Linked DNA regions of Homo sapiens. The protein of the gene in region 1 purifies or fractionates together with the protein of each later gene. This does not show direct contact. Each region holds a gene or a part of one and is shown on either strand. Other genes may lie near its edges.

What was found. Proteins that work in one complex are often made in the same cells at the same time.
Region 2: the proteins of SPANXN5 (region 1) and LIG1 purify together in Homo sapiens (affinity purification with mass spectrometry; one large-scale study listed by BioGRID and IntAct). This does not show direct contact.
Region 3: the proteins of SPANXN5 (region 1) and DESI1 purify together in Homo sapiens (affinity purification with mass spectrometry; one large-scale study listed by BioGRID and IntAct). This does not show direct contact.
Region 4: the proteins of SPANXN5 (region 1) and FTO purify together in Homo sapiens (affinity purification with mass spectrometry; one large-scale study listed by BioGRID and IntAct). This does not show direct contact.

The regions. Positions count from the first base shown.
Region 1 is NC_000023.11:52,795,644-52,798,857, forward strand, and holds SPANXN5 (sperm protein associated with the nucleus on the X chromosome N5), read right to left. Parts: upstream 1,785-3,214; 5' UTR 1,706-1,784; coding exon 1,631-1,705; intron 989-1,630; coding exon 845-988; 3' UTR 501-844; downstream 1-500.
Region 2 is NC_000019.10:48,163,845-48,167,344, forward strand, and holds part of LIG1 (DNA ligase 1), read right to left. Parts: intron 1,780-3,500; 5' UTR 1,723-1,779; coding exon 1,706-1,722; intron 1-1,705.
Region 3 is NC_000022.11:41,604,044-41,607,543, reverse strand, and holds part of DESI1 (desumoylating isopeptidase 1), read left to right. Parts: exon of another isoform or gene 1-18; coding exon of another isoform or gene 19-56; intron 57-212; coding exon 213-282; intron 283-3,390; coding exon 3,391-3,500. UniProt on the Homo sapiens protein: Protease which deconjugates SUMO1, SUMO2 and SUMO3 from some substrate proteins. Has isopeptidase but not SUMO-processing activity. Desumoylates ZBTB46. Collaborates with UBQLN4 in the export of ubiquitinated proteins from the nucleus to the cytoplasm.
Region 4 is NC_000016.10:53,819,156-53,822,655, forward strand, and holds part of FTO (alpha-ketoglutarate-dependent dioxygenase FTO), read left to right. Parts: intron 1-3,500.

The DNA.
Region 1 (3,214 bases):
TGAGGTGATCCACCCACCTCAGCCTCCCAAACTGCTGGGATTACAGGCGCAAGCCACTGTGCCCGGCCCTATAACCAATGTTTTTAATTGTATCCCTCTAGAGAGAGTGAGCAGAGGTGTCTGTGTATGTCTGTATTGTGCTTTGTGTTTTACAGAACATTAACTCTTTATAAAGCATATATTTCTAACCTAGGAAAATATCAAATGGAAAAGGGATGGGAATACCTTTGATATGTACATTCAGCAGAACTATGTGCTGCCGGGTACAGTTGCATGAACATATACACATCTCCACTTCCTGTGGGAGGAAATTTTAAGAAGAAAATTTTCTTTAGGAATCAGTGCTCCCCCAGGCCTTATTTACAATGTCTGGCTTACTGTCAACCTGTGAGTCTGTCCACCAACCCTACAGGACCTCATATCCCTCCCTTCTCAAATGCCTACCTCTTCCCTTCCCTTCTCCCCCACCATCAGAAAACAGGCATAGATATATGCAGCCATCAGCTTCTCAAACTTGATTTTATTGTAATCATCACCGTTGGTGGTGAGGATTTGTCCAATTTGGTTTCTCCATGTTTAATTAGTCTTCCTCACCCTCCTCTGACGATCCTTCAGATGAGTCTGGGTCTTCTTCCTCCATCAAAGATCCTTCAGATGAGTCTAGGTCTTCATCCTCTTGTGAAGATCCTTCAGATAACCCTAGGTCTTCATCCTCCTGTGAAGATCCTTCAGGTAATTGTAGGTCTTCATCCTGCTTTGAAGATTCTGCAGATGAGTCTAGGTCTTCGTCCTCCTGTGAGGATCCTTCGTCCTCCTCCTCTTGGACTGGATTGATGGAGTTCTCTCAGGACTGGTCATTCTCGAGTTGATTTGAATGTATTTTCTTAGTCTTCCTGTAGCACAACACTAATACTGTTGAATATTCTGATGTTTTCATCTTTTTCAAACTCGGTTCGAGGACTAAGTCCCTGTTTGGTGTCTCCTGCATCTGTTAAGAAAACAGGGAGAGGCCAGAAAGACATTATTTTGGGTGAATAGGATAGAGACTGGATAGCAAGGGGGGCTTTATGAGAAGGAATGCAGGTTGAGGAAGGGGTTCGATCCAGAGAAGAACAAGGTTGACTCACAGGGTAGGGATCTATGGGGAAGAAGAGGAGCATGGGTAGGGTCATCTGTTAGTCCAAACTGCACCATTTTGTAAGTTCTTTGCTATTTTGCAGACCTTGGTCAAAGTGAAACATCCCATGGGGGTTCAGGCCGTGAGAAACATCCTGCCTAACCACCTGTCCACAAGGCAGACAAAGGCCCAACTAAAGAAACATCCCTATCATATCTTGCTTGGCAAAGTTCTAAGGAACACCACAACGATATTCCACCAGAAAAAGGGCCAAACCACCTGATCATAAGAACATCTTATCAATATCCTGCTGGGCAGCAAGCCATGCTGCCCAGATCCCTCCCACCCATACCTGTAAGTACCCCAGGCTGTAAGCGGTGGTGGGATCTGGCATTAAGCTGGTCCCCCACTTCCACAAGCGTCTGCAGTATTCCTGTGTTGCTGTTTGAGCTGCCCCCTCTCTGTGTGTCTTTCTTTCACCCTCGCCTTCACTTCAAAACCTAACAATCTTACCTCATCATTTTTGCTGTTGGAGTCACAGGGGCTCTTCCTCTTCTCCCCATTGGTGCTTGAAGTGGGCTTTTCCATGATTCTGGTTGGTTGTTGAATGTCTACAGCAGGATCTTGTAGAGTCCAGACTTCCACAGCTATATTGAAGCTTCCCAGTGGCCCAGAGCTCTTGCCCTCCCTATATATACCCTCCTGGTGACAAGGCAAAGCCACACCCTTGAGCTTTGTTTGATCATACAGGCAGTGTCCCAGCCAATGGCAGTCCAAGGGTGGCTTAGACATCACAAAGCACCACTGCTGACCACTCCCTGGGCTTGTGGGGGAGGGGTGACAGGGGTGTAGAGGAAACCAAATGCTGCTGTTGTTTCAGCATCCCCTGAAGACGCATCCCAAACTGATCTGCTGCCGCTCCTCATTTCTCCATGTTTAATGTTCATGGTTCACATGGAAGTGAGAGGTTGATTCTGTCAAGCCCTTCCCCACAGCCATTCCTATTAAGTGATTCATTCTTTTGTCTTCCAGCCCTCACCATGACTTAGTATTTTAGATGTCTCACCTCAAATCCCCCAAGCTAGTGTGGCTACATTTAATTATTGGTGGAGATGTGAATTATCCCATTTCCCTCTTACAGTTCCTTCATATGCACCTTGAAGACCATTTACTCTTGGGCTACTGCCAGGCAAATTTCAACCCATGTTCTTTTACCCAATGTCCATGTAGTTCTTTTAAGTTTCCTATTTCCAATCTGAAACAATGGCCTCAGTCTGTCAAAACTTTAGTGAATTAACATTCTTTACCTTGCATCCTAGTCTTGTTTCAAATCAGGGGTGTATGTTCATAGTAAATGTAGTATCCCAACATGAATTCTACCAGTATGTGGGGTGGGGGAAGGAGTAAATATTCAAGTGCTGGAAGTTGTCCTGAGTATTTACCTGCAGGATACTGCAATCTAAGACTAATATGTGCAAGAATGTGGGCATAGCTAAGCTTTGCACTGGAGATTGTGTCCAGTGACAAAAAAAAATGCATTCAGATTGGAAGGGAGAAGTAAAAGTATCTTTTGTCAAAGACTACATGAGAGTGTATGTAGAAAATCAATCTAAAAAAAATGCTTCTACAATAATTGAGGTTAGCAAGATTGCAGAGTAAGCGATCAACATATAAATCAATTGTATGTTTATCTAGTAGAAGTTATATATTAGAAATTTGCATCCAGTTTTCACCTATAGTCATCATGTCAATATGAATAATGACACATTTTTCACCGGAAAGTATTCCCATTTGTATAATTAATTAAATGGTAATATAAGTTTTAAGGTATCACTATCATTATTGGCATTAAGACGTGAAAGAGTTATACATCATAAGCAGTGAGGCAAAGAAAAAGACATGGAGAGGGAAACAAAATCGGAGAGTAACACATCTGGAAAGCTAAATATTTGCTTCTAAAAGTGACTGTTTTTGGCTGGGCGCAGTGGCTCACGCCTGTAATCCCAGCACTTTGGGAGGCCGAGGCAGGCAGATCACCAGGTCAAGAGATCAAGACCATCCTGGCTAACACGATGAAACCCCGTCTCTACTAAAAAT
Region 2 (3,500 bases), on another chromosome or scaffold:
TGAGGCAGGGGAATGGCCTGAACCTGGGAGGCAGAGCTTACAGTGAGCCAAGATCGCGCCACTGCACTCCAGCCTGGGCGACAGAGCAAGACTCTGTCTCAAAAAAAAAAAAAAAAAAAATGTTGGAAGGCGTGAACATTAAAAAAAAAATCTGGTGAAATCTGAATAATAAAGTATGGAGTTCAGTTAAGAGTAATGTACTGACATTAGTATCTCAGTGGTGAGAAACGGATCATAGTAATGTATGATATTGACAATGGAAACTGGCCAAGGGTATACAGGACCTCTCTGTACTGTCTTTGCAACTTTCCTGTACCTCTAAAATTATTCCAGAATAAGAGGTTTATTTAATCTTCAAAAAGAAAAGGAAAAATCATGCAAAAGCCAGTGGACAGAAAGCAATCGAAGGCACCATCAGCCCTGGAGAGACAATCCCCAGATTCCTCATCACGGGAGAAAAACGGAACCCAGCATTTGTGTAAGCCACTACCGCCCAGGTTTCTGGGATGGATGCCCTTGTCTGGGTCTCTCTACCATCCATTTTTTCCTCCTGGTAACAGCCCCTCCGTTTTCCTCTTGGGATGCTTCTTACCCCACATTCTCTCAGTACACACGATTTGAGTGGGCTGGCCCTTTTGCCTGTGACCAGGGGTGGACACGTGATCCAGGCTGCATCCCTGTGGCTGGTTCAGGGATAGGTATGTGGCCCAGGCTGGGCCAGTGAAACTGGGCTCTAACACCCTCTTTCCAAGGGGACCGCTAAGAGGGGAGAGCCCGCCTGAGGGTGAGGACAACCTCAAGGACAGTAGAGCTGAACAATGGAGAGAGACAGATTCCCAGGGAGGAAGTTTTGGCAACTGGATCGAACCAAGCCTGAGGCTGTTTACTCCAGCAGGTTTCAATGATATAAGTCAAGTCATGCCCTTTCTTGTCTTCCTGAAGCCGGACTGCATTAACACGAGGTTTCTCAACCTAGACACTATTGACATGTTGGGCCTGATGGTTCTGTGTTGTTGGGGGGGCTGTCCTATGAATTGAAGGATGTTTAGCAGCATGCCTGGCTTTTAGCCACTAGATGCCAATGGCAAACCCTCTGTCCCTAGGTTGTAACAACCAAAAATATCTCCAGACACTGGCCGGGCGCCGTGGCTCACGCCTGAAATCCCAGCACTCTGGGAGGCCGAGGTGGGCGGATCACGAGGTCAGGAGTTTGAGACCAGCCTGACCAACGTGGTGAAACCCCGTCTCTACTAAAAATACAAAAATTAGCCAGGCGTGGTGGCACGTGCCTATAATCCCAGCTACTCAGGAGGCTGAGGCAGGAGAATCACTTGAACTCATGAGGCGGAGGTTGCAGTGAGCCGAGATTGCGCCACTGTACTCCAGCCTGGGTGACAGAGCAAGACTCCAACTCAAAAAAAAAAAATCTCCAGACGCTGCCAGATGTTCCCTGGGGAGCAAAATTGCTGCTGACTGAGAACCACTGCGTTAGGGTTTCTGCTCCTTGCAACTAAAAACTGTTGTTCAATACACTGTCTTCCATATCCCACGGCTCATTTTCCATACTACTTGACTCCTGGAAATTCCAACTCAAAATCTAACGTAAGAGTTTTTGTTTGTTTGTTTGTTTTTTTAAGTACAGATTTAGAGAAAGAAACAGAGGACTTGGAGAAGGAAAGACTCAGGGGCAAGGGAGGGTGCTCACATGATACTTCGCTGCATGTTGGCGTCAGAATTCTCCCTTCCTGTCCAGCACTTTTCTTCGTCTGTCAGCTGCTCCTGGAACAGAAATCCAAACACTTGTTGAGGTGATTGGTTGTGCAGAGATCTAAACACACATAAAACCCTTTCTTTAAGAAAGAAAGAAAAAAAAAAACAGAAACATGAATTTCCCCTTCAAAAAGAAACTCCTGTTTTTATGAACCAAAATAATTTGCTGGTGAGATTTACTGGTGCAGAATAAAAGCTCCAAATCAGAGAAAAAGATAAGAGGCCTCCTTTACCATAAGAAGACTGTTTTTCATCTAATATGAGGAATAGACTGAGGACCTGAAATGGGTTTTTTTGGAGTTAAGTTTAAAGGTTAGTGAAAAATTGTTTTAAGGTGATGACATAATTCCGTGAAACAACTGTGGAAGCTTATAAAATTGTACCCGCTGGTCTACATAAATTAGCTCTTGGGCAGTTTCTAAGGTATGCTGTTATTTCAAACAAAGGGCAGAATATCACAGAGTGTGTGCTACTGAACTGTGTAAAAGAGAAAGGCTATAGGTCAGGCACAGTAGCTCACGCCTGTCATCCCAGCACTTTGGGAGGCCGAGGTGGGTGGATCACTTGAGGTCAGGAGTTCAAGACCAGCCTGGCTAACATGGCAAAACCCTGTCTCTACTAAAAATACAAAAATTAGCCAGGTGCGGTGGCACGCGCCTGTATTCCCAGCTACTCTGGAGGCTGAGGCAGGAGAATCGCTTGAACCCGGGAGGTAGAGGCTGCAGTGACCCGAGATTGTGCTACTGCACTCCAGCCTGGACAAGAGTGAAACTCCATCTCAAAAAACAAAAACAAAAGAAAGACTATAAATGTATCCACATATCTTGTATATGTACAGAACATCTCAGTTGGAAGACAAAAAACTGGTAATGCTGTCGCCTCAGGAGGGACAGACGCTGGAGGGAGATTTTTTAATATGCATGCTTTTGCAGGCAGAACAATTGGAATACGTTACCCCTTCACAATATATTTTTAAAAATTAAATACTTTTTTAAAAAGTCTGTTATTTAATGAAATCAATAACAGTCACTGGGGCTTCCACAGTTTAGAGTAACTCTAATGAAAGGGTTCCTAGGCCGGGCGTGGTGGCTGCTGCCCATAATCCCAGCATTTTGGGAGGCCGAAGCGGGTGGATCGCCTGAGGTCAGGAGTTCGAGACCAGCCTGGCCAGCATGGTGAAACCTCATCTCTACTAAAAATACAAAAATTAGCCAGGTATGGTGGTGCACACCTGTAATCCCAGCTAGTGGGGAGGCTGAGGCAGGAGAATCACTTGAACCCAGGAAGTGGAGGTTGCAGTGAGATCATGCACTCTAGCCTGGGCAACAGAGTAACACTCTGTCTCAAAAAAAAAAAAAAAGAAAGAAAAAGAAAGAAAAAGAAAAAGAAAAGAAAGGGTTCTTAATCTGGGGTCCACAAAACCCAGGAGTCCAAGAGCAGAACTCAAGTGGTCTATGAAATTTGACAGGAAAGAAATTACGACTTTATTCTTGTAAACTTCTAATTGGAACTGAGCCTTTCCTTCCATTATAAATATTAAAGATATAAAAAATTATAAATTTTCTATATCTTTAATATTTATAATGGAAGAAAATAAATTACACATTATAATTATGTAATTATAATTATTTACATTATATTTCCTTCCACTATGAATATATTTTTTAAAAAAGGACTAGCAGGACCTCTGCGTGGATTGCTTGAGTTGAGACCAGCTCAGACCAGCCTGG
Region 3 (3,500 bases), on another chromosome or scaffold:
AGAAGTATCCAGCCTCAAATGTCAATAGTGCCAAGATTGAGAAGCCCTGATCTGTGGTATTTATCATATTCATACCTTTGGTTTGTTGGTTTTATAAGACTGGTCCCCACAGTCCTATCCTTGGGCAGAAATTACTCTCATTGCATTATGGTGTTTGCTTTTTCTCAAAAGTTTAAGTTTTCTGGCTTACTGTGTCTCTCTCTGTGTGACAGGCACACATCCATAGTTGTGCACAAGGATGAGTTCTTCTTCGGCAGTGGTGGTATCTCCAGCTGCCCCCCGGTGAGTGTCTTCCCCTACACTCTGTCCTGCAGTCTCAGGTTCCTGGGGGCTCCTGTAGACCAGGAGCTTTGCTTCTACTATGGACTTCTGGCATTGTTCCTCAAAGCCACCTGAAGACTTGGCTCAATAAAACCTTTCCCAGACACCCCAGCCAGTTCCTCTCCTCTCTGTTCCCATGGCACGTGTGGGTCCTTCTGTCTCACAGAGAGCATGTTATGGTGAAATGAGCTGTTTCTGGTTCTCCACAGGGAACTGTGTAAGCTCCTTGCGAGCTGAGACCTTCCATCTCCATCCCCTGCACAGTGTCCGGCTCATCCTAGGAACGCAACTGATGTTAAGCTGAATGATGAGGGCTCTGAGAAGCATCAAGACTTGCCCAAACTTAAACAGCCAATAAGGGACACCAGTCCTAGAACCCAGGATTATCACACTAAAGCCCACACCCTTTTCCGAAAATTTCTTTTTTTTTTTTTTTTTTTTTTTTTTTTGAGATGGAGTCTCGCTCCGTCGCCCAGACTGAAGTGCAGTGGTGCGATCTCGGCTCACTGCAAGCTCCGCCTCCCGGGTTCGCGCCATTCTCCTGCCTCAGCCTCCCGAGTAGCTGGGATTACAGGTGCCTGCCACTACACCCAGCTAATTTTTTGTATATTTTAGTAGATACGGTGTTTCAGCATGTTGGCCAGGCTGATCTCAAACTTCTGACCTCGTGATTAGCCCACCTCGGCCTCCCAAAGTGCTGGGATTACAGGCGTGAGCCACAGCGCCCAGCCTTTTCCAAAAATTTCTATCAGCTATCCAAGTGTTGTCACAGTAGGTGCTCAAGCAATGGCCAAGCAGCCATTCATTTTGGTTGTGTGTTTGTTTGTTTTTGCTACATCCTACAGGAAGGATTTTTTTTTTTTTTTTGAGACGGGGTCTTGCTCTGTCACCCAGGCCAGAAATGCAGTGGCACAGTCTTGCTTACTGCAGCCTCCACCTCCCAGGCTCAATGAATCCTCCCACTTGAGCCACCTGAGTGGCTAGGACTCAGCACCACCACGCCCTGCTATTTTTTTCTATTTTTTTAGAGATAGGATCTCCCTATGTTGCCCAGACTGATCTCAAACTCCTGGGCTCAAGCAATCTACTGCATAAGCCAGAATTCTCCCATTGCTTTTGGAATAAAAGCCAGAAAACTCAGCATGGCCTCCCAGGACCTACCTGATCTGGTCTCTGACTCTGACTCTGGCCAGCCTCTTTTAGGTTGTTCCCTCCCAACCCTCACTCTCTTCTCATTCTTTGAACACACCGTAGACATTGAAACCTGCACTCTGACATCAGTACACCTTCTTGATCCTTCACCTGGTTACGCCTCTCCATCCTTCAGATTTGAGTTGTGTCACTTTCTCAGGCAAGTCTTCCCTGATCCCTCAGACCGGGAAGGTCTCCTGTCATACGTACTGTTGGCATTCTGTACTTTTCCAGCCTCCCCTTAATTGCAGCTCATAATTATATACTGGTTAAGGGGATTTTTCAGTTTCCCTTCCCTGCTACACTAAGCTTCTTAACGGCAAGAATCTCATCTATTTTGTCCACACCACAGCCCCAGTGCCTAGCATAAGGCCTGACACATAATAAGTTCTCAATCCATAGTTGTTATATGAGTGAATAAGAGGGGTCAAAGAGTGACCTTTTAGTTTCTTACAACTCTGAGATAATTGTTCTCTGCCTACCATGGTTATCTTGCTCACCATGCTTTCCTCAGTGCCCAGAACAATGTCAGCTATGTAGGAGGTGCTCAGTGGCTATGAATGAATGATCTTTTCAGGGAGCTCTGTTCTGGAGTGTTATCCCTTCCCAGATTTGTTCTCCTGCTGATCCCGTTGCTTCCCCAGTGGCTGGTTTCCCCACTCAACCTCAGTCTCTCCTTCAGTTTTCTCTGGCAGTCTGTTAACCACATGGCTGAGGGTTTTCTGTAGGCCTTTCGGGAGCCATTAACTCCCTTGCCCTATGATGGTGATAGGGCAAGGATTAGGCTCACAGATCCAAAAAGAACTGAATTATGGAAATATCTGCCAGCCTGCCAGATTTCTCACCGTCCTCGTTTTTCCATTATTACACGGGATATCAAGTATATCATAAGAAAAACTGGCTGCATACTTTATGCAAATAGGCATGGAGAGATGGCCTGTGAAGTGTGAGCCATTTCTGTTGTCCTGTTCTGTCCTCATGATGAGACATACTGGGGACAAAAGTAGACTTCAGATTCTGGGTTTCTCTTTCTCAGCTGAGTAAGTGGACAGCATCAGGAGTCAGAGCTGCAAGAGAATCAGCTTCCCAGGGCCCCCCCTCCCCTCTAGAAACAAGAAGTCCGACTCCTAACTATGCTGCCAGCACATGGCAATGAAAAGTGACCAGAAAGCTCTAAGCCAAGCTTGTCCAACCTGCAGCCTGTGGGCCATACGCAGCCCAGGACAGCTTTGAAAGTGGCCTGACGTGAATTTGTAAAGTTTCTTAAAACATGAGATTTTTTTATCTTTTTTTTTTTTTAAGCTCATCAGCTATCATTAGTGTTAGTGTATTTTGTGTGTGGCCCAAGACCATTCTTCTTCCAGTGTGCCTCAGGGAAGCCAAAGGATTGGACACCAATGCTTCTAAGCTATTGCATCCTTGATACAAATAGCAAATCACATTCTTCATCTGCCCAGGGTGCTCTGCAAGTTAAATATGAAGTCAGGCTGGGCGCAGTAGCTCACACCTGTGATCTCAGCACTTTGGAAGGCCGAGGTGGGTGGATCACTTAAGGTCAGGAGTTTGAGACCAGCCTGACCAACATGGTGAAACCCTGTATCTACTAAAAATACAAAAAATTATCTGGGCATGGTGGCAGGCACCTGTAATCTCAGCTACTTGGGAGGCTGAGGCAGGAGGATCACTTGAACCCGGGAGGCGGAGGTTGCAGTGAGCTGAGATTATACTCCAGCCTGGGTGACGAGAGAAACTCCGTCTAAAAAAAAAAAAAAAAAAAAAAAGTCAGAACAGAGTGTTTGTGGTCTACTGTGGGAAGCCACATTAAAACATTCAGTGGAGATGGTAACTTAATGACTTCCTTTGGGTTGGCTCTTTTAGGGAGGGACATTGCTTGGGCCTCCAGACTCTGTGGTTGATGTGGGGAGTACAGAAGTCACAGAAGAAATCTTTCTGGAGTACCTCTCCTCCCTGGGGGAGTCCCTGTTCCG
Region 4 (3,500 bases), on another chromosome or scaffold:
ATATATTTTCCAACTTTGATACAGTTAATATTTATTTATTTATCTATCTTTGAAATGGGGTCTCACTCTGTGGCCCAGGCTTAGGCTCACTTCAGCTTCCACTTCCTGGGCTCAAGCCATCCTTCCACCTCAGCTGCCCAAGTAGCTGGGACCACAGGTGCATGCCACCACACCTGGCTAATTTTTTTGTATTGTTAGTAGAGAGGGGATTTCACCTTGTTGCCCAGGCTAGTCTCGAGCTCGTCAGCTCAAGCAATACACCCGCCTGAGTCTCCCAAAGTGCTGGGATTACAGGTGTGAGCCACCACGCCCAGGCAGTTAATTTTTTTATGTGCTAAGAGGCTTCTCTATTAATTTGCTTGTGAATGGGTGTGTGTGTGTGTATTTAAATTTTTAATGGTTCTGCATTAATGTTTCTGCATTCCTGCCATATAGGTTGTACTTTTTTTTTCCAGTTTGTTTGCCTTTTAATTTTATGATTTATTTTATACAAAAATTTAAATTTTCAGATATTCACATCTATCAATCTTCTTTTTCAAAAAGTTTATTGATTAACTGTATATGTGTATAATTTACATACCATAAAATGCACGTTTTGAAATTGTACAATTCAGTGATTTTTGGTAAATTTCCAGAGGCATACAACCATCATCACAGTAGTTTTAGAACATTTTTAGCACCCCAAAAAGATCTCTCATGCCTCTTTACATTTAGTTTTCTTTCCTGCCCCAGCCAAGATCTCCACTCATCTGCTTCAGTCTTTTAAAGCTTTTATTCTTAGAAAGGAGTCTTGAGCACTTATGTGGAACCAAGTGATGTGGCTATAACAGATACTAATGCTATTTTCTTCTTCTTCTTTTTTTTTTTTTTTGAGATGGAGTCTTGCTCTGTCACCCAGGCTGGAGTGCAGTGGTGTGATCTCGGCTCACTGTAACCTCTACCTCCCGGGTTCAGGTGATTCTCCTGCTTCAGCCTCCTGAGTAGCTGGGATTACAGATGCCCGCCACCACGCCCAGCTAGTTTTTGTATTTTTAGTAGAAACAGGGTTTTACCTTGTTGGCCAGGTTGGTCTCGAGCTCCTGACATCAGATGATCCAGCTGCCTCGGCCTCCCAAAGTGCTGGGATTACAGGTGTAAGCCACCGCTCCAGGCCACTAGTACTATCTTCTTTTAGGAGCTTGTGATCTTACAGGACAGATTATTAAACTAATAATAGTTTAAATAAATATAGTTACAAATAGATAAGTGCTACAAAAGAGAAGTAAAGCGTGGGGAGTGATAACAGAGGGCACCTATTTGAGGGTGGAGATTCAGGAAAGGTTTCCTTTTTTTTTTTATTATACTTTAAGTTTTAGGGTACATGTGCACATTGTGCAGGTTAGTTACATATGTATACATGTGCCATGCTGGTGCGCTGCACCCACTAACTCATCATCTAGCTTTAGGTATATCTCCTGATGCTATCCCTCCCCCTCCCCCCACCCCACAACAGTCCCCAGAGTGTAATATTCCCCTTCCTGTGTCCATGTGATCTCATTGTTCAATTCCCACCTATGAGTGAGAATATGCGGTGTTTGGTTTTTTGTTCTTGCGATAGTTTACTGAGAATGATGATTTCCAGTTTCATCCATGTCCAGGAAAGGTTTCTATAAGAAAATGACCCAGGGATGGGAAGGACCATCCAGGTGTGGAGTTGGGGGAGGAGCCTGGGGGAAGTATTTAAGAGCTGGACACTTGAGGACTGCAGGAATAGAAGCACATATGGTCAGAGAGAAAGGGGACATGATCTGAGTGGGAAAAAAATGGAATATTTTCCCATGCCATTATTTTCTTTTTATGCTGTTTTTTATGTCAAGGTATTTACAGATGATATTTATGTGGTTATATGTTTTTCCTGGTCTATAGGGTTATAATTTCCCCATATTAAATATATCTTATGCAGTGTTGAGACCCAGTGTATGTTGAATAAGGGCAGCAGAATTTTAATGGGGGGTGGGCAGGCGTTTGTGCATATGAGTGCATTATTTTCAGTATTCCTTTCTTAGTCCCAGAGGGGAGTGTGTTCAGAAACAGAGTTCTTGGGAATTACCATACTTTTCTTTATTGTTTTATACTAAGGACCATTCAGAGAGTACTGGAGGTGTTAAGACAGTGTGAAGAAATTACCTTCTTCATCACTTCTTCATCATTGCTTTGAGTATACTGGGGCCTCAGGGACTTGCTAAGAAAGTAACCAGTATAGTGATAGAATTAGAGTTGCTGCTCATGGCTTCAGAATATTTGGTCTCTGCTTACAGGATTGCATTGCTTTCTTCATAAGCTATGTAAATAGAAAGTACGATATCACTGTTTCTGTTTTCCAATGGGGATAACTAAAATATGGAAACTCAATCCTTAATGGATCCCTGACAATCTCAATGACAATCCATAGTGGTATGCCACATGACTCTTCTCTTTGTCACTTTCAATTCATGGTCAACACCTCAGATAGGCATTTTGAGAAGCAGGGCAGTCCTACCACACTTACCTAGTAAAGTCATTTTTTCACATTCAGACTTGACTCATTCATTTTTCTTCTGCATACTTCCTCCCACTTTCTGCATGTCTTCTATAATATCTCCTGCACTCTGCCTCATTCAGAACAGGCTAGATTATGCTATAGTAACTGATAACTCTCAAATCTCAGTGGCTCCACACAATAATATTTCTTGTCCATTTTATGTATCATTTGTGGGTTGGCACAGAGTCACTACCCATTAAAGTAGCTCAGAGATCCAAGCAGCCACCAGCTGGTTGCTGTGGCAGAGGGGTGCAGAGTATGCTGGAGGGTCTTGCAGTGACAATGACATGTTCCAGGCTGGAAGGGATGGCCATCATTTTTCACTGGACAGAAGTAATCCCATGTTTCATCCATCCTGAGGGGACCAGGAAGTGTAATTTTACACTGGGCCCAAAAAGCTGGGTGGCAGAGGAGGAATCCAGAACTATTTGGCAAACAGCTCTAATGACCAGCATACATTCTTAGCTAGTGATTCACCTTAACTTCATTGAGAAAGTCAGAGCATTCTCTAACTACCACCCCTCCAAAAGAAACCCTAGAACGTACTCATCTGCCTACTATTATTACATTTATCATCCTATCTGAATTCATACCTTCTTTTTCCTTCTAGCCTATTCCAATATAAGAAGTATCTTCTCTCCTATCCACATATTTTTGATCACATACTCTTATCAGTAGATAAGCACATACAGTGACATCCTAGAAAGTGTTTAACAAGTGGCCTGTAGGGGGAAAGAACCAGCCTTGATTTTTAGTGTTTTTTGATTTCCGCAGTGTAAATACTCTCACTGTGGACAGTTTCAAGCCACCGTCACGGTGTTACTGAATGTGCAGTTGGAAAGAGATGCACACAGTGGGCTCTCATGAGCCAGTGTGGACTGACTCCAGCACACCACCAGTAGTGTGCTGGTGGTAGTACTCATGTACTCGTGTCTGTTTT